2 separate regions of the Homo sapiens genome follow, and region 1 is linked to region 2. The links come from fine-mapping of genetic effects on gene expression. A gene starts in region 2. The other region holds a variant in brackets. All regions are shown on one strand. Distances are between the middles of the regions.

Region 1 (2,803 bases), 43 kb after region 2:
ACCATTTTAGCCAGGCTGGTCTTGAACTCCTGACCTCAGGTGATCCGCCCGCCTCGGCCTCCCAAAGTGCTGGGATTACAGGCGTGAGCCACCATGCCTGGCCCTCTGTGGGGGTCGATGCCATCATCCAAAGCCGGTCTTTGAGAGGCCCTGCCATTGTGATCCCAGTATGTGTGATGCTGTGTATGTATGTATGTTTTGTGTGTTTTGGGTCTTCTTGATGGGGGGAGAGTTGGGCACAGATGTTGACCTGATCTGTCACTCACTTCCAGGATATTTCATGTCTGAATCGGGACCCAGCTCGAGTAGTAGTTGTGGACTGCAAGAAGGAAGCCTTCCGCCTGCAGCCCTATAACGGCGTTGCCCTGCGGCCCTGGGACGGCAACTCTGATGACCGGGTCTTGTTGGATCTGTCTGCCTTCCTCAAGAGTAAGGCTGACCCCTGATCCCTTGGCCTCTGACCCCAGAGCCCCTGACTCTGAAGAGGAAGGATAAATGCATGATTCATGGCTGGGCGACTGAGGTGCAAGAGGTGCCTGAGCACCTTGGAGTCTTTAGGAGCTTCTTAGGATGTTCATGGAATGTTTGGGGGATACTTGGGGATGTTCAGGGGAGCCCTTTCAGAGCGTTCAGAAGCATTCCAGGTAGCACTGACTGCCCCCGTGCCCCAGTGCGGGACGTTCCCCTCATGGGCCCTGCCTCCCTCTGGCCTTTAGAAGCCTGGCTGACCACCCCCTGTTGTGCCCACAGCCATTGCACTGAATGGTGTGGAGGACGTGCGAACCGTGCTGGAGCACTATGCCCTGGAGGATGACCCGCTGGCGGCTTTCAAACAGCGGCAAAGCCGGCTAGAGCAGGTTGGTGCTCAGATGCCCAGAGTGGAGGATCGGCTCTGAGGCTCCTGAAGGAGGAGCCTGGGGCAGTCCATCTCCACACTCTTGGTTTGGCTGTGTGACCCTGAGCAGATACCTCCTCTCTGCCTCAGTCTCTGTAACCAGGGGGATATAACACAGCCTGTCCTGTAGGGCTGCCAGAATGAGGGGATGCATTGATTCTGCAGCCTGCTCTGAGAACAGGAAACAGGAGAGGATTTGAGATTAGGCTGGGAGAGGGGTTGCCCTTGATGGTCTTGAGTAGGTCTGGGGGCACCTTGTGGAGGTGGATTGTGGGTTTTAGATCAGGCCTGGAAAGAGGCTCCCTGGGCACGTGGCCCAAGGCTGTGGGGAGAGATGTGATAGTCTTGGTGGGACCCTGGTAATTTGGAAGTGGGACTGAGAGTATGGATTGCGTCTGGGTAAGATTCCCAGGGGTCTAGGCTGAGGTTCACCAGATTCTAGGTTAGGTTCCTAGAGTTGGGAGCCCCTGAGTGCCCAGAGAAGTCCCTAGAGATTTGGGCCTGGGGACCCCCCAGGGAACCCCCCACCCCTGCATCCAGAGAGGGGTCATGGGGCTCAGAGGGCCCAGGGGCAGGATGATGCAGTCTGGTGAGGAGGGCCATGGGGTTTGGACCTGGGATCTCACCAGCATTCACCTTGGGGTAACAGGGTCTGCGATAGGATCTCAGGCTCAGGGGAGGGGTCCCTGGGATCTGGGGAAGGAGATTATGACAGTCTGGGGCCTGAGAACCTACTGCAGTTCAGGCCTGAATACCTCGAGTGCCTAGTATTGGAGTCTGTCGTCCCCCAAACATTGAAGCCTAGGCTCCTGC[G/A]GCTCAGAGCTGGCTCTTCCTAGTGTCTGGGGTGGGGGGACTGGGGTCTAGGGTCCCTTGTGTCTGGGCTGGGGGCCCCAGGGTTTGGGGAAAGGGGTCTGGACTTGGCAGAAGTCAGAAGGAAAGGTGGTCCCTGGGCTGAGGCCTGGGGACCTGGGCATCTGGGAGGAGGCTCTGTCCACCTTGCGCTGACCCTCTCCTCCAACTGTCCCCCTACCCCAGGAGGAGCAGCAGCGCCTGGCCGAGCTCTCCAAGTCCAACAAGCAGAACCTCTTCCTTGGCTCCCTCACCAGCCGCTTGTGGCCTCGCTCCAAACAGCCCTGAACTCTGGGCCTCCTCAAACTCAGTGCCTGGGTCCAGGGCCCCAGTGCTTCCAGACCAAGACTTGGGCCACCACTTGTCCAATAAAGTACATCCCAGACGCCACACCTGCTGTGTCCCGAGAGTCTCCAGATGGGGGCATCAGGGTGAGGTCCGGGACTCTTGGGTCATCGTCCCACAGTGGCTGATCGGCTGCCAAGCACAGTGGGGGTGCTTTGTTGGATCAGAGCAGATTTTTCACCCTGGTCTCGGAATCTAAAAACCCTCGCTGTGTCTTCCTGTGTGTTGCGTGATCTGTGAAAAATACATCTCCCTCTGACCACAGACTCCTCATCTGTGGAGAAGGGAAGAGAGGATGGCACTTGGCTTTAAAGACAGGTAGCTGCCAGGCTACTGTGGAGAGAATGTGTTATGGGCCTAGTGGGCCTCTGGTGGACCAGAGATTACCCCTCTCAACAGGCCAGCTGCTGGTTGGCTCCAGCCAGTGTGGCCCTGGGGTAAAGGGGGCCTGGAGTTGCTTGACACGCCAGTTGTTCAAAAGAAGCAAGAACTTGGGAATATTTTTTTTTTTTTTTTGAGACAGGGTCTCACTGTTGCCCAGGCTGGAGTGCATTGATGTGATCTTAGCTTACAACAGCCTTGACCTCCCGGCTCAAGTGATCTCCAAGTGACCCTCCTGCCTCAGCCTCCTGAGTACCCTCCTGGGGACTACAGGTGCGTGCTACCATACCCAGCTAATTTAAACAAATTTTTTTTTTGTAGAGATGGGGTCTT
Region 2 (2,803 bases):
CCGAGTAGCTAGAATCACAGGCACATGCCACCACGCCCGGCTAATTTTTTTGTATTTTTAGTAGAGACGGGGTTTCACCATGTTGGCCAGACTGGTTTCGAACTCCTGACCTCAGGCAATCTGCCCGCCCCGGCCTCCCAATGTGTTGGGATTACAGGCATGAGCCACCGCGACTGACATAGACTTCTGATTTTTAAAATTTCCCCTATCAGGTTAATTTTTCAATTTTTAAAAATTTAAGTTTTAATTTTTTTTTTTTTTTTTTTTTAGAGACAGGGTCTCTATTACCCAGTCTGGAGTGCAGTGGTGCAATCATAGCTCACTGAAGCCTCAACATGGGTTCAAGTGATCCTCCCACCTTAGCCTTTGGAGTAGCAGGGACCACAGGCACACGCCACCACACCACATTAAAAAAAACACAAAAATTGGATACATGGGGTCTCAATTTGTTGCCCATGCTAGTCTCAAATACCTGGCCTCAGGTGATCCTCCCGCCTCAGCCTCCCAAAGCGCTGGGATTACAGGCGAAGGTTCATTTTTCATCTCTCCATTACACCTGTCCACTCTGCCATCACTCGTCAGCCGTCATTACTAATAGATAAATTCGCCTTTAAATGAACTTAGGAAGCCTGGAAAGAAAAATAGGGACTTGGGCCGGGCGCGGCAGGTTATGCCTGTGATCTCAGCACTTTGGCAGGACGAGGCCGGAGGATGGCTTTTTAGTTTGAGTTAGAGGAGTTTGAGACCAGGCCGGGCAACAGCCCGACTCTACCAAAAAAAAAAAAAAAGTACAAAAAGAAAGAAAAAGAAGGAAAAACCAGGGCTTCACGGTCACTCAGACTTGGCGAGGAGGCTTGGGTCTGCCGCTTTCCACTGAGTTTTTCTGAGCTTCAGCGTTCTCTCCAAAACGGGGATACGGATCTCCTGGGGATGCTTTAGAGGGCCTAGGAGATAAAGCCTTGTTTCTTTTATAATTTGCTATTCGCTGATTTCGCCGCCTCCTCGCAGCTTGGCCTACCGCGCTAGTGTTCCGGACTAACGAACAAACGGCTCACTAAATTCAAACATGAGTTTCAGCCTGGTCGCCGAGCCGGCGGGTAGAAAAAACCTTTCCCCTCCTAACCCTCCGCAGATGTCGGCCCCGCACTCCGCCCAGGCCAGCCCTGCCTCTCTCAAGATGGCGACCTGGAAGTGCGTCGCCCGTGCCAGCCCCGGAAATCTCGTGTTAGGCGAGGTCAACGGGTAGGTTCTCGCGAGAGGACCCGTCAGCCCCAGTCAGGCGTCGTGCGAACAGCAGCTGGTACCGAAGGCGGAGGTGGAGCCCGAGAGGTAAGTGCGTGTGCAGAGGTGGCAGTTCCGGGCGCCGGGGAGGTGTAGAGAACAGATTCGGAAACTGGGGAGGTCTAGCATGTGGCGTAGGAGGGGGTCCTCACTCCGCTTCGCGATTGCCAAAACGAGCCTGCCGGAAGCGCCCTAAGGGGTTTTCTTCTCCCAGGGAACCAGCGGGGAAACTGAGGCTCGGGGTGGAGCGCAGGATTGTGGGACGCGCCAAGGCTGCTGTCTTTCCCAGCAGCAGCGGAAGATGTCGGACAGCGAGGACAGCAACTTTTCCGAGGAGGAGGACAGCGAGCGCAGCAGTGACGGCGAGGAGGCCGAGGTCTGTGGCTGGGGCGCTGGGGGAGACATTGCGTCTGGGGACAGGACTCCGGGCAGAAAGGCCCCTGTGGGAGGCTCGAGGGGTTCACAGCGGGCTCTGGCTTCTGGGAACTCCCAGATTGTCTCAAGAGATAGAGAATTAGGCAAGTCGAAGTCAAGCAAAGGGACAGGTTCTGGAGGCCAGAAATGGGTCAGGTCCAGTGAGATAACAGGTGATGTTTTGAAAGTTTACTCTGTGTGCATATAGTAAGCACTTAGCATTAGTTTTTTTTTTTAGTTATGTCTAGTCATTCCATAACTATATTTGTAGTGCCTACTATGTACCAGGCGCAATTCTTTGCTCTTAGGGTACACCAGTAAACAAAAAGATTTTAAAAATGTCTGCCTTCGGGAATGTAAATAAATATAGCCAAGGAATAAACTATATAGTAAGCTGGAAGGTACTCTGGAGAAAAGAACAGAAAAGGGGAATGGAGAGTCCTGGTTGCTCTTGAAATAGGGTCATCAGCATGAGTCTGAGGGGTGACATTTGAGCAAAAACTTGTTGGAGGTGAGGGAGTGAGTCGTGGTTAGCTGGAAGTGTAGTGTTCCAGTGAGGGGGACCAGCAGGTGCAGAGATGGGAGTGTGTCCGCCGTGTTCAGGGATTAACGAGGATTTGAGAGGCCAAGCTGGGAGGATCACTTGAGCCCAGAAGTTTGAGAGCAATCTCGGTAACACAACGGGACCCTGTCTCTACAAAAATATAAAAACCATTGGCTGAGGCCGGGCTTGGTGGCTCACACCTGTAATCTCAGCACTGTGGGAGGCCAAGACAGTGGATCACCTGAGGTCAGGAGTTCAAGACCAGCCTGGTCAACATGGTGAAACACCATTTCTACTAAAAATACAAAAAAATTAGCTTGGCATGGTGGCGCCCACCTGTAATCCCAGCTACTCGGGAGGCTGAAGCTGAGAATCGCTTGAACCAGGGAGGTGGAGACTGTGGTGAGCTGAGATCGCGCCACTGCACTGCAGCCTGGGCGACGAGCAAGACTCCGTCTTATAAAAATATTAGCTGAGCTTGGTGGCACGCTTCTGTAGTCCCAGCTACTTGGGAGGCTGAGGTGGGAAGATTGCTTGAGCCAGAAGGTGAAGGTCTAGTGAGCT

What was found. PIP is the estimated chance that this variant, and not a neighbour inherited with it, causes the effect.
Region 1: its variant is the best candidate, but not a certain one, in a credible set for the expression of SUPT5H in fibroblasts (GTEx, PIP 0.89).

The regions. Positions count from the first base shown.
Region 1 is chr19:39,487,789-39,490,591 of GRCh38, forward strand. It overlaps TIMM50 (translocase of inner mitochondrial membrane 50), which reads left to right. Exons shown (of 11, transcript NM_001001563.5): 9 at 273-429; 10 at 751-857; 11 at 1,931-2,803. The coding sequence ends at 2,032. Among named protein-coding and RNA genes, the nearest start is that of TIMM50, 8.4 kb to the left of the region's middle. The variant G/A (reference allele first, on the strand shown) is at 1,709.
Region 2 is chr19:39,444,309-39,447,111 of GRCh38, forward strand. SUPT5H (SPT5 homolog, DSIF elongation factor subunit) reads left to right here and starts at 1,274. Exons shown (of 30, transcript NM_001111020.3): 1 at 1,274-1,329; 2 at 1,496-1,657. The coding sequence starts at 1,583. RefSeq lists enhancers at 517-1,314, 1,074-1,343, 1,315-2,111, 1,484-1,703.